Linked DNA regions of Homo sapiens. The protein of the gene in region 2 interacts with the protein of the main gene of each other region in a biochemical or structural test. Each region holds a gene or a part of one and is shown on either strand. Other genes may lie near its edges.

What was found. Proteins that work in one complex are often made in the same cells at the same time.
Region 1: the proteins of SFTPD (region 2) and UPK1A form a complex in vitro, tested with the Homo sapiens proteins (one study listed by IntAct).

The regions. Positions count from the first base shown.
Region 1 is NC_000019.10:35,662,309-35,669,530, reverse strand, and holds the start of UPK1A (uroplakin-1a), read right to left. Parts: upstream 3,015-7,222; 5' UTR 2,993-3,014; intron 2,723-2,992; 5' UTR 2,719-2,722; coding exon 2,635-2,718; intron 1,584-2,634; exon of another isoform or gene 1,078-1,583; coding exon 877-1,077; exon of another isoform or gene 846-876; intron 1-845. UniProt on the Homo sapiens protein: Component of the asymmetric unit membrane (AUM); a highly specialized biomembrane elaborated by terminally differentiated urothelial cells.
Region 2 is NC_000010.11:79,946,086-79,953,042, forward strand, and holds the start of SFTPD (pulmonary surfactant-associated protein D precursor), read right to left. Parts: upstream 3,021-6,957; 5' UTR 2,981-3,020; intron 578-2,980; 5' UTR 575-577; coding exon 376-574; intron 1-375.

The DNA.
Region 1 (7,222 bases), on a different chromosome or scaffold from region 2:
CGTGGCTAATTTTTTTTTTTTTTTTTTTTTTAGAGATGGGATTTCGCCATGTTGGCCAGTCTGGTCTTGGACTCCCGACCTCAAATGATCTGTCCGCCTCAGCCTCCCCACGTGCTGGGATTACAGGCATGAGCCACTGCGCCTGGCCACGAAGCTCATTTTCTAAACTGCTTACCCTAGTGTCAGGTGCATGAGAGACACTTGGGAAGTATGGGTTATTCTTGTGGGCAGAGATTAAGAGCACAGCCTCAAGAGCCGATCTGCTCAGGTTGAAACTGGCTCTGCCATTGTCTCAATGTGTGACCCTGGATAAGTGACTTCACTTCTCTGAGCCTCAGTTTCAATCTTCATCAAACAGGGTCATGATGATGACAGTATCTCTTGGTGGACTATGAGGAATAAATGAACTAATCCAGTAAACCATTTAGAACAGCTCGTGGCTTGTAGTAAACCATTATTAAATGGTAGCTGTGCTATTATTGGCAGAGTTCATGAGCATGGACTCTGGAAAGCAGCTAGCAGGGGTTCAAATTCTAGCCCTGCACTGGGTGCAGGTAGAGGGGCTCAAGCCTGTAATCCCAGCACTTTGGGAGGCTGAGGCAGGAGAATCATTTGAGCCAGGAGTTTGAGACCAGCCTGGGCAACATAGTGAGACCCCCATCTTTACCAAAAAAAAAAAAAAGAAAAAATCCCAGCTCTGCTACTCAAGCCTGGGTTATTGGGCTGTGGGAAGACTGAATGAGATGATGCCTGGGATCCCTGAGTGTGACACCATGGGGAACTCACACTAGTGGCTGGGGCTGCACCTGCTACTATGACTCAGTGATGCTGAACTCCGTTTTCAGTGTCCCCATCCCCCAACCCCTGGAGTCTCACCGTGAGGACCATGGACCGGCGGCGGCAGAGTGCGGCACCCACACCAAAACTGGCTACCATGAAGAAGGAGAAGCCGCAGAAGATGGCAATCCAGGCACCAGCGAAGACGTCATCCTTGCCTGAGACTCCCATCAGTGGGTATACACGGTACTGGTCGGCTGTCACCCATATGGTCTCAGCAAACAGGGACAGGCCTGACAGCTGGACAGAGCGGTGGGTTAGGAAGGTCTGCTCGGGGCCAGCAGCCCTGGCACCAGGCATCTCCACGAGCAAGTTCCCTCCCCATTTGGAGCCTCCACTGCCCTCTCAGTAAAGTGGGCAAAGACCTCGCCTTCCATGAGCAGCGATGAGGGTGAGCAGAGGCCAGGAGAGAAGAGACAGCCCAGCCAGACAACCGACCCCCACGCCCCAGCTGCCAGTTTCTTCGGGGATAAAAGGGGATGCCACGTGGAAAGGCTGGAGCAGTGGACTGGCACAGAGGAGATGCTTGGTCCATCTGCCCTCCCTTGACAGTGCTGTTATTCCCCGAGGAGGGGAACATGGCCATGGCCATAAACATTACAAATGGGCCAGGCAAGGTGGCTCACACCTGCAGTCCCAGCATTGTGGGAGGCCGAGGCGGGAGGATTGCTTGAGCCCAGGAGTTTGAGACTAGCCTGGGCAATAGTGAGACCCCGTCTCTACAAAAAATAAAAAAATTAGCTAGATGTGGTGATGTGCACCTGTAGTCCCAGCTACTTGGGAGGCTGAGGCAGGAGGATCAGTTGAGCCCAGGAGTTGGAGGCTGCAGTGAGCAAGCATCACACCACTGCACTGCAGCCTGGTCAACAGAGTGAGACCCTGTCTCTAAAACAAACACACGGCCAGTCGCGGTGGCTTACACCTGTAATCCCAACACTTTGGGAGGCTGAGGTGGGCAGATCACCTCAGGTCAGGAGTTCAAGACCAGCCTGGCCAACATGGTGAAACCCCATCTCTTCTAAAAATACAAAAAGTAGCCGGGTGTGGTAGCATGTGCCTGTAATCCCAGCTGCTCGGGAAGCTGAGGCAGGAGAATTGCTGGAGCCCAGGAGGTGGAGGATGCAGTGAGCCGAGATCTCGCCACTGCACTTCAGCCTGGGTGACAAAGGGAGAATCTGTCTGAAAAAAAAAAAATTAGCCGGGCGTGGTGGTGTGCGCCTGTAATCCCAGCTATTCTGGAGGCTGAGGCAGGAGAATCACTTGAGCCCGGGAGTTAGAGGTTGCAGTTAGCTGAGATCAGCCACTGCACTCCAGCCTGGGCAACAGAGTGAGACTCCGTCTCAAAAACAAAACAAAACAAAACAAAACAAAACAAAACAAAACAAAAAACACAAAACCAAAACCCAATGTTAATTGAAAGACACTGTTGTTTTTCCTTCTTGTGGCCTCCTGTGCACCAGGCTGTCACTTTATATCCATAGTGATGCTGATGGTGATAGCCAGCATTGGTCGGGCACTTTCTCTGAGCTGAGGGCCACACATGGATTAATCCACATGACAACAGCCCACACAATGAGGACACAGTCTATAGATGAGGAAAGAAGGCACAGAGAGGGACAGTCGCTTGCTAAGGTCACAGAGCTGGGGAGAGGCAGAGCTGGGATTTCAACCCAGGCTGTGCTGACCACTGAGTCTGCCCGAGAGACAGTTCTGGACCCTCATCCCCCACCCCGAGCTCAGGACTGTCCCCTCCCCACCACACAACCACTCGGCTCCCAGCACTGGGGCGAGTCTCACCAGAATAATGATATTGCCCACAACTAGCAGGCCCACCACAACTGGAGATCCCTTCTCGGCCTCCGCTGCTGCCGCAGACGCCATCATCCTGGGACACATGAGCAGGGATGAGGCCAGGAGCGTAAAGGGCCAGCCGGACCCCCCATCTCTGAGCCACACCCTGGCTTCGAGGGGTTGCTCCAGCTCTCTGCGGGGCCCAGGCTGGTACTGATGTACCCACAGCCCTGGTGGGGAGGCATTTTGCACAAGAGGACACCCGGGCTCCGGTGGGGCAGTCACTGGCCTGAACTTGGCACTGCCCCTCCCTGAGCCTCAGACCCCTCATGCCATACCCAGACTCCCAGGGCCCCCTCCTCACCTTCTCTGTCTGCAGCCTCTCTGGCCAGCCCCACCCACCGTGGCTCCCTATATACGCCCAGGCCCCTCCTTGGGCTAGTCTCCCAGGAAGGAGGGAGGGTGTGTGTGTGTGTGTGTGTGTTTTGGGGCACGGCAGTGGGGTGGACAAGAGGCTGAGCCGGCAGACCAGGCTGGATGAACAGCTTTGATGGGCTCCCTGCCACCCCCATGATTTATAGACCTGAAATACCAGATTGTGTAGGACCCATGGCCTCTGGGTCCCAGGCTTTGTTGGCGGTGGAGGAGTTGGAGGTGGAGGGGCGTGCGCACCACCTGGTGTCTCTCTTGCTAGGACATGGGCCTTCCTGGGAATAGGAGCAAGATCCAAATCAGGGCGGGGCGTGGTAGCTCAGGCCTGTAATCCCAGCACTTTGGGAAACTGAGGTAGGCGGATCGCTTGAGCTCAGTAGTTTGAGACCAGACTGGGTGACATAGTGAAACCCCGTTTCTATAAAAAATACAAAAATAATTAGCCAGGCTCATGCCTGTGGTCCCAGCTACTTGGGAGGCTGAGGTGGGAGGATGGCTGAACCTGGGGACAGAGGTTGCAGTGAGCCAAGATCGTGCCATTGCACTCCAGCTTGAGTGACAGAGCCAGGCCCTGTCTCCAAAACCAAACAAACAAAAAATCCACTTCGGACCCACAGGTGGGTCCTGAATCCCAGAAGTGTCTCTCCTGCTGTGTGACCTTGCACAGGTGGCTGCTCCTCTGTGAGGCCGGGAGCCCGTGGGGAGGCCCAGGCAGGGACCCCTGCCAAGGCCAGGGCTGGACCGAGGCAGAGCAGTGGGGAGATGAGGGGACAGGTGGAAGGGGCGCTTAGGAGGCTGACTACATGGGCGGTGGGCTGAGGGAAAGGATGGCACCCAGGATAGGTGTGTGAGGGGAGTCTGAGATAAGTGCAAAGATGGGGGAGAAGAACGTGCTAGAAAATGAGAGGGGGCACACCGGGCTTGGTTGAAGAAAAGTCCCCGTCGCCCCCCAACACACGCATGGACCAGACATTTATTTCTTCAGGTGCAGAATGAGAAACCTAGGTTCAAATCCCGGTTCTGCCTCTTCTGGGCGGCACGACTTGGCTTGTGGATTTGCCCATCTGCGAAATGGGTATCATCAGACCGCTTCCCTGGCGGAGGTGGGGACTGAGCCAGCGCGTGTCCCCAGGGGCCGCCGATGCTGCCCACGAGGCCACGGTCTCTCCGATGCCACGCCCTCGCAGCGCAGGGCTGGCTCCATGCAAAAATGGTGGCCCAGGGCCCCCGACACCGTCCCCAGAACTTCTCAACCCCAAGGCTAGGCCGTGTATTGCCTCTGCTGTGGGAGCAGTGGCTCCCCACTGCGGTGCCTGCGAATTTGGCAAATGACACTGAAAATCCCATCGTCAAGGCACTGGTTTGGTAATAAGATACATGAGATGTTTTCCGATTAAAATGGTTAATTTGGTTTTAGTCAACCCACTTTAGATTTTAAAATAGTTTTTTTGGCCAGTCGTGGTGGCTCACGCCTGTAATCCCAGCACTTTGGGAGGCCAGGGTGGGGGGATCACCTGAGGTCAGGCTGACTAACATGGTGAAACCCTATCTCTACTAAAAATACAAAATTAGCCAGTCGTGGTGGCAAGTGCCTGTAATCCCAGCTACTCAGGAGGCTGAGGCAGGAGCTAATCGCTTGAACCTCGAAGGCAGAGGTTGCAGTGAGCTGAGGTCGTGCCATTGCTCTCCAGCCTGGGTGACAGAGTGAGACTCTGTCTCCACAACAACAACAAAAATCTGTAAAGTGTTTATTCAAGAAAAGCAGCTGAATCTTAGTAAGAGCAGTGAACTTTATGACTTTTTTAAAATTTATTTTTATTTTTGTTTTCTTGAGACAGAGTCTCACTGTCGCCCAGGCTGGAATGCAGTGGCACGATCTCAGTTCACTGCAACCTCTGCCTCCCAGGTTCAAGCAATTCTCCTGCCTCAGCCTCCCGAGTAGCTAGGATTACAGGCGCCCGCCACCACGCCCGGCTAATTTTTATACTTTGTGACATTTTTAATTGGCCTAGTTCCATTCCCCCATTCCAGCTCCATGGTAGCCTTGAATATTAACTGCCAGCATTCTCAGTGGAAACTAGCAGCCTGGCATACACCAAACGGGGCAGAAGAGGATGAAACTCCATAAAAGCCTCACTCCCAGAAAGTCAGAATTATTTGATTCGTCTTATGGTTCCCTGGAAGCCCCTACTTGCAATGTTGTCTGTATTTGACCTAACTTAGAGCTCATACATCGTCAAAATTATTTCCCCAGGGGCATTTGTGAAACACAATTGCATGCAATTGTTTAACTAGGCAGCTGCCTAAGCAATGAATAACAGTTGAGGCCAATAATAGGCTAATGAAACAGTTTAAAAGATAAAGCTGGGGAATGAGAAGGCTTTGAAAAACTCCAAAATATTCTTGGAAATCTAGAAGGTCACATGCATGCATAGGGTTGTGTGCATGCCCAGGAGTATATGCAGGCTCAAGAAAGACCAGAGATGAGAACCCAGTCTTCTTACATTGGGCTGACCTTGAGGATGTGTGCCTTCCTGGGAGAAGTAGTGGCGAAGGCAGAGTTGTCAATTGCCTGGCTGAATGTCGAAAGCATGGCCCACCATGCCTCAGCAAAGGCTAGGAGATTATTGGTTTTTGGAGGCTAAGGAAATCTTTGTCCAATCATTAGCGGAACTAATGCTAAAGAATACTGTCTTTTTTTTTGAGATGGAGTGTTGGCCAGGCTAGTCTTGAACTCCTGACCTCAAGTGAACCTCCCACTTTGGCCTCCCAAAGTGCTGGGATTACAGGTGTGAGCCACCATGCCTGGCCTAAAAGCAGAAATTATTTTAAAAGAACTAAACAGAAACTTGGGACTTGAAAAGTACAGTAACTAAAATGAAAAAATTCAAATGGGCCAGGCGTGGTGGCTCATGCCTGTAATCCCAGCACTTTGGGAGGCCGAGGTGGACAGATCACGAGGTCAGGAGATCGAGGCCATCCTGGCTAACATGGTGAAACCCTGTCTCTACTAAAAATACACAAAATTAATCAGGCATGGTGGTATGGGCCTGTAGTACCAGCTACTCAGGAGGCTGAGGCAGGATAATCACTTGAACTCGGGAAGTGGAGGTTGCGGTGAGCCGAGATCGCGCCACTGCACTCCAGCTTGGGCGACAGAGCGAGACTCCGTCTCAAAAAAAAAAAAAAAGAAAAAATTCAATAGAGGAATAGAGGGTTCAACAACAGATTTGAGTAGGCAGAAGAAAAGATCGGTGAACGTGAGTATAGATCAGTTGAGATGATCAAGTCTAAGGAACAGAAAGAAAAAAGCACGAAGATAAGTGAACAGAACTTCAGAGACCTGTGAGACATCATCAAATAATGGGAATCCCAGAAGGAGAGGACAAAAAGAAAGGGGTAAAAAAGAATATATGAAGAAAGAATGGCTGAAAACTCCCAAAATTTGATGAAAAAAACCATCAATCTAGAGCCAAGAAGCTCAATAATCTTCAAATAGGATAAACTCAAAGATATCCATCACCAGACATATCATAATCAAATTATTGAACGATAAAAAGAGAACCTTGAAAGCAGCAACTGACAAGTGACCCATCACGTATAATTAATCATCAATAAGATTAACAGCTGGGCTGGGTGTGGTGGCTCATGCCTGTAATCCCAGCACCTTGGGAGGCTGAAGCGGGAGGATCACTTGAGCCCAGGAGTTGGAGATCAGCCTGGGCAATATGGGCAAACTCCATCTCTACAAAAGAATACAAAAATTAGCTGGGTGTGGTGGCATATGCCTGTAGTCCCATCTACTTGAGAGGCTGGGGTGGGAGGATCTCTTGAGCCTGGGAGTTCAAGGCTGCAGTAAGCTGTGATCAGGCCACTGCACTCCAGGCTGGGTGACAGAGTGAGGTCTTGTGTCAAAAAAAAAATTAAAAAAAAAAAAATAATAAAATGAGAAAGATTAGAACATTTGGAAAAAATGCAGGCTGGCGTGCGGTGGCTCAGGCCTGTAATCCCAGCACTTTGGGAGGCTAAGGCGGGCAGATCACCTGAGCTCAGGAGTTGAGACCAGCCTGGGCAACATGGTGAAACCCCGTCTCTATCAAAAACAAACAAACAAACAAAAAACTAGCTGAGTATGGTGGTCTATGCCTGTGGTCCTAGCTAC
Region 2 (6,957 bases):
TGTTTAATTAAATATTTAAAATATTTAATGCCCTGCACAGGCATCATTTAATTGGAATGAACAACTGCTAACTGCTGGCACAGGGCTCTAGAAGGCCCCAGATATCAGTAATTTACCACTGTTTGCTTGCTCTTGGGATAGGAAGGATCCGGGGATCCTAGAGGAGGAGCTAGGGCAGTTGGGTGCTGGAGGAGGCACATGGGGGCTCAGCACAGCCACTTGTTTGCCAGCTGGTGGAGCAGTGTGGAACTCGCCTTCTTGGGAGGAAGAAACACGTCTCCAGACTTCCATAACAAAGTACCCAGAGTTGCTGGGCTAGTTACAGTTCCAATGACCATTCCTCCCCAGCAGGATAAGCCCAGGGCCCCACCCTACCTGGGTCCCCCTTCTCGCCCCGAGGGCCCTCTCTCCCATCCCGTCCATCGCGACCAGGCAGGCCACTCTCCACTGAGCTACACATGACCAGGGTGCAAGCACTGGGCATTGTTCTGTGGGAGTAGGTCTTCATTTCTGCTTCCAGGTAGCCCAGGGGCTGTGTGAGCAGGACCAGTGCAGAGAGGAGGAAGAGCAGCATGGCCTGGAGAGGTGAACAGAAAGAGAAAAGACATGCTTATGCTTCATGGACATGGTTTAGGGCTTGGCTCAGCTTCTAGAGGTGACAAGAAGCCCCCATTCCCTCCTTCTGTCCTCTGCTATGGGGCCTAGAGCAGCAGGAATCCAAAAGCAGTTTAAGGACAAGGAGGGCACAAGGTCTGGATGGAGAGCATGAGTTACCCAGCTGGAACTCTGACATAGGTTGACAGCAGCATCCCCCATTCCCAGGTGCTCATGTCTTCCCTTCTTGTGCCTTCCCTTGGGCACTAAGTTTGGCACAGTGGCTAGGATGTAGCATTCCTCACTGGGGCCATCTGTCACATCAAGAAGGGTTCATTGAGTGCCTCTGGGCAGGACACCCCCCGCCCACTCCCTAGACCATCTCCCTGTCTGTACCACTGAGGCAACTGGCTTAGCTCAGACAAGGCAAGCCTGTTTCTTCTCTCTTGCTGCCTTGCATGGACTAGCACTGGTGCTGATAGTGCTGGTCTGAAAATGCAGCCAGAGTCCTGAGTGCTTAGTAATGTCCTTCCTGAGCGCAGGCTGGGAGTGTGGTGCACATTTGCCTGGCAATTTGCCATTCCTCGAGCAGGTGCTGTCTCTAGAGAAAAGTCCCAGAGGGAACCCAGGTGAAAGTTTTCAGAGACACTAAACTAGCAGTAGGAGAAATCCTGAGACACCTAGAGTTCTTCTAAGACCTGAGAGGGTTTGGAAAAGAAGTATGTGGAGTCTGGGCACGGTCGCTCATGCCTGTAACCCCAGCACTTTGGGAGGCCGAGGCGGGCAGATCACTTGAAGTCAGGAGTTCGAGACCAGCCTGGCCAACATGGCAAAACCCCATCTCTACTAAAAGTATAAAAAATTAGCCAGATGTGGTGGTGCGTGCTGTAATCCCAGCTACTCGGGAGGCTGAGGCAGGAGAATCTCTTGAACCCGGGAGGTGGAGGGTGCAGTGAGCCGAGATCGTGCCACTGCACTCCAGCCTGGGCAAGAGAGTGAGACTCCATCTCAGAAAAAAAAAGAAGTCTTATATGGAAAGAGGACATGCCAGGTAGGCTCAGTCAGGCAGAAAGCTAGTGTTGTGGGTAAGCAAGAGCAACTACCCAACAGGGCACCCATTTACTATCTAAGATGGTCAGGAACTGAGACCAGGATAAGAGCAGGACCTGGGACATTAACTGTTTTGGGTATCTTTTCTCTCAATGAGAAACCGTAAAGTTATGAGAGTGAAAAGAGCTGATCAGATTCGCAGAGGCTAGGAACAAAGCCAGAGGGACTTGTGCAAAGAAAGGGGTCACCAGGCCAACTGGGGTGGTGGCAAGTGGGGGGCTTCCTGCCCAGAGGAGTGCCTTCTTCTTTGACTGCTGGTGATTCTGGGCTGTGGATGACCCCTATTTCTCACTAGCCTCTTTCAATTTTGAAATCACCACTTCCTTGGGTATCCTGGTAGTCTCTAGAAACACCTGGGTGAGCTCACTGCCAGCAGCGGCTACCTTGTTACACCTGTTCTGGCAGAGGCTCAATCATGAGCAGCAAGGGCCAGACCCAGGCCAGAGCAAGGGCATTGTTCTGTGCCCCGCAGCTCCCTCACCCCTCAGGCCCTGTGTCTGATTCTGGGGAAGAATGAAAGGCAATAGGCATTCTGTCTACAGGCTCAAGATGGCACAGAAGGCACCAGCAGCCACTGTGGCTTGAAGGACACTTGGAGAGGGCAGACCCGGGTTTTCAGGCCCAGGATTCAGATGAGGCATCTTAGCTGGGGCAGCAGATGGAGTGGGCAGAGTTGTGGTCCCCCTCAACCCCTGCAGTGCCCAGTTTATGCTAAGCTTTCAGAGTACAATTTCATTGAAAAGGCCATCTCCTCTGAACATGGATTGGAAAATCAGAGACCTACTCCAGTAAGTATATTTTTTAAAGTAAAGACCTGAAGCTATGAGAAAAACAGGCTTGCCCTGCTTTTCCACAGGCTGTTGGCACCAGGATGGGTTTAGAACCCCAGCCTGTGAGTGCCTGGGTTTGTCTCTCTTCCACTGTCCTTTCTGAAGAAATCAGTGCAGAAAAGAGCCTAGAGATAAATTAGCATTGCATTTTTCCACCTGAAGCTTCCACACTGTGGCATCCCAGGTCTAGATAGTGTCACACCCACTCTTCCACCCTGTGCACCCCCAGCTCAGAAAGCAAATCCTCCCCTGGGCTGAGGCCACTGAATAAGGGGCAGAAGAGCACCATAAGACCTCCTGTGCTCCCCACCTCCTGCGCCCATGCCTCCTAGACCAGAACAGCTACACAGACCCTCCACACCAATAGGTTGAATTGCCCAGGTCGGCAGAGGGATATTTATAGGATGTGGAGAAAATAAAAAGAAGGCAAGAACAGAGACACTTACAGGTTTCTTTTTGTTAGGCCCCAGGAGCTCCAAGCAAACTAGCCTTTGCTTGGCAGGCACTCACTATTTATGCCTGCCCTGTACCCTGAGCTGCCCAGCCCCAAAAACTCCCTTCAAGAAGTGGGGCAATTTTCTTCTTTATTGACTCACTCACTCTTATCCCCACCTGCGTTCTGGAAACCTGCCACTGATATTCACAATACTATGCACATCCATCACTATAGTTTGCAGAACACTATCAGGCCTTGAACTCATCTGCACCTTTCTCACTGCAGCTCTGTGAATTAAGTGGCATCATCAGTGTCTGTATTTTATAGATGTCTAGAAATCAGGAGTCCAGAGACCAGCAGGTTGCACAATGACCTACAGCGATTGCAAAAGGAACTCACAACTGCAGATCTTAAGAGCCAAGACCTGCTGTGTCCACTTCTCCTCTTCCTTTGTCTCAACAGCACTGCCCAGATATTGGGAAAGAGCTGAGAGCTGCTTGGAATACCTGGGCAGGGGTGGGGCAGGTAGAGTGGCTGCAGAGGCAGCAGCATGTGGGGGCAGCAGCTAGGGAGCTGCCACCTGGAAAGAGTTGCTCTTTTGCATGCTGCTCTAGGCCTCAGAGAGCCCCTGCCTTGCTTGTCTTTTGTGGGATGGATTTCCCTTAGCAGACCTCTGCCTTGCCTTGTTCAGGCTTGTTCTCCCTGCCATCTTAGCTGGTGTTTGTCTTGTGCACTGTTCTTGTAACTAGTTAGGACCCCTGAGCTGATGCTACTTTTATCCAATCTTTTAGTCTGTATGTATTTTTTTTTTTTTTGAGACAGTCTCACTCTGTCACCCAGGCTAGAGTGCCATAATGCATTTATAGCTCACTGCAGCCTCAAACTCCTGGGCTCAAGTGATTGTCCTGCCTCAGCCTCTTTACAGGTGAGCATGATCACACCTGGCTAATTTCTCTTTTTAATTTTTTACAGAGATGGGGTCTCACTCTGTTGCCCACGCTGGTCTCAAACTCCTGGTCTCAAGCAATTCTCCTGCCTCAGCCTACCGAAGTTCTGAGATTACAAGTGTAAGCCATCATACCCAGCACCAATCTGTATCTTTTAAGTGGAACATTTACTCCATTTATTATCAAGGTTAATATTGATATGTGATGTTTTGTTCCTGTCATGATAATTGTTACCCAGTTGCTTTTTAGTCTCAATTATGTAATTGCTTTATATAATCTGTGAGTTTTTCACTTTAATGTGCTTTTATGATGAGGAGTATTGTCCATTCATTTCCATGTTTAGAACTTTAAGCATTTCTTGTAGTGCTGGTCTTGTGGTGACAAATTCCCTTTGCATTTGTTGTATGGGAAAAACTTTATTTCTCCTTCATTTATGCAGCTTAGTTTAGCAGGATACAAAATTCTTGGCTGGCAGGATTTTTGTTTAAGTAGATTAAACATAAGACCCCAATCTCTTCTGGCTTGTAAGGTTTCTGCTAAGAAGTCCATTGTTAGTCTGTTGGGTTTTCCTGTATAGATTAGACATTTCTCTCTTGCTGCTTTTAGGATGTTTTCCTTCACATTGACTTTGGATAGTCTGATGACGATATGCCTTTATGAGGTTTCTCTTGTAAAGCATCTTCCAGGTGTTCTCTGAGCATCTCCTATCTGGATGTCTAATTCTCTAGCAAGACCAGGGAAGTTTTCCTGAATTATTCCCTCAAATAGGTTTTCCAAGCTTTTAATTTTTTTTCTTCTCCCTCAGGAATGTCTATATATTGTATATTTGGTAACTTTATGTAATTCTATATTTTTCAAAGTCTTTGTTCATTTTTAAAAATTTATTTTTTCTGTATTTCTGTCTGACTAGGTTAATTCAAATGACTGGCCTTCAGGCTCTGAAATTATTTCTTCTGCTTGGTCTAGTCTTTTGCTAAAAGTTTCAACTATATTTTATAGTTCCTTCAATAAATTTTTATTTCTAGAAGTTCTATTTGGTTTTTGTTTTTTAATCTCTATCTCTTTTGTAAATTTTTCATTAATATCCTGAATTATTTTTCTGATTTCCTTATGTTAGTTTTCAACTTTCTCTTGTATCTCATTGAGCTTCCTTACAACTCATATCTTAAATTCTTTATTTGTTATTTCAAAATTTTTATATTGGTTAGGATCCATTGCTAGGGAGCTGGTGTGATCCTTTGGGCATGTCAAAATACTGGTTTTTCGTACTTCCAGAGTGCTTATGCTGATTTCTTCTCATCTAGAGAACCCGTTACTTCTTACTTTTGAACTTACTCTCATTTGAATGGGATTTTTTCCCCCTTTGAAGGTGTGACTGTATGTTGTGTGTGATCATTTGGCTTCAATTTTGGGTGCCTTCCGTGGGTCACAGCTCTGTATGAGTTCCTTGGTCATAGATAGCTTTTGTGTGGTGGCTTTATTATGCTGTATAGATAGCTTTTGTGTGGTGGCTTTATTATGCTGATTGTAGTAGCAATGTATTGGGCATATGAGCAGGAATACTACCTTCTGAGGGGCTGGGAATGTGGAAGTCTCTGAAAGTTTATCTCATTCCCCAGCACTATACCCTCTGTCAGCCTGTTTTTTATTTGGTTGTGCAATTCAATCTGCATCCCAATAAAAGCTGGCTGTGGCATAAGCTGATGGGTACTTGGTCTTTGTTTTCTGGGAGGGGATCTCTGTTGTCACAGGCAGTTGGCTGGTCTGTGGATGGCCTGATTCCCTGAAGGGAACACAAAGCTTTGGAGGGGGACACAAAACTGAGGGGCACTAAACGACCAAGCTCACCCTGGGAAACCCCAATTATGAGCAGAAGCAACTGCCTTGATGGGAGTGGAAATGGGAGCTCATGGTGAAAGGCACTGATGTCTCCACCAGAGTGGGAAGGAGTATACCAGCTCCACATCCTGGGAAGGCAGGAAGGCAATCCACTTTCCTAAAACACCCTTGTCCCGGAGCTTGTGACCTTCAGTTCAGATAGACATTGTCCTTCATCTCCAGGCTGCAGTGTGATGGAGGTCTGCAGAAAACACCCGTCCTGTGGCTACCACCAAAATGGCCTTGGGATAGAACCTCTTCCCTCAGCAGCTCTGATATTCATCTGCATTCTGCTATGGGAATGCTGCTGCTCCATATGGGGAGGAGGATAAACTCTGCCCTTCGTGCAAGGCTTGGCCAGCAGGCACCCCATCAATGGGAGTGCAGCTGCCCCCAGGAGCCCTCAAAAGCCATCCCCAGGTGCACTTGTGCCAGCTCCCAGTAGGGACAGCCAACGGTCTATCTGGAGCATTGAGTGAGGGGGTAGGAGAAGACTCCCTTTCCATGTTTATTCCCAGGCACCAGTGTCACCTGCCTACTGGTGCAGAACCACACTCCTCCCCTTCAGACCCCAGAACCATGCCTGTGTCTCTGCTGGGAGGGGCACAGCCAGCCTCTTCTCACACGTGGGGAGCTCTTAGGCAGAGGAGAGCAAATGAACTGGTTTCTTTTATCCAAAGGAGTACGTTGGCACAGACACTCTCCCTTCTCCTAAGAGCTAGACTTCTAGGAATTCCATAGCTCCCCAGGGTCCCACCCGTCCCCTGTGGTTGCTGCAGTCTAAGTGGGTTCTGGGGAATGTTCATGGAGGATCTAGTGATGCAGAAACACAAGGGCTGGGATTCCTTGGGAAGAACAGACCCACAATGGGTGCATAACCAGTATGACACCTGCCACTTCAACTCAGGTTTTGGGGGAGAGCGAGTGTGCCTGCATGAGCTGGCCACCCAATGCTCTGCCCTAAAGAAGTTCCCAAATTGCCACTGACAGCAATGCCTGGGCTCACAGGTGCAGAGGGTTTCTCCAACAAGTTCAGCAGTCCATAGTCTGCCACAGGAGTGAGGGGAGCAACTTCCCCTCCTACCCTCTCCATGGGACTCTATGTTCCTTGGAAGTCAATCTCTGCAAAACTCTTGCTGTCTTCTTTTTCAGCACCACAGCT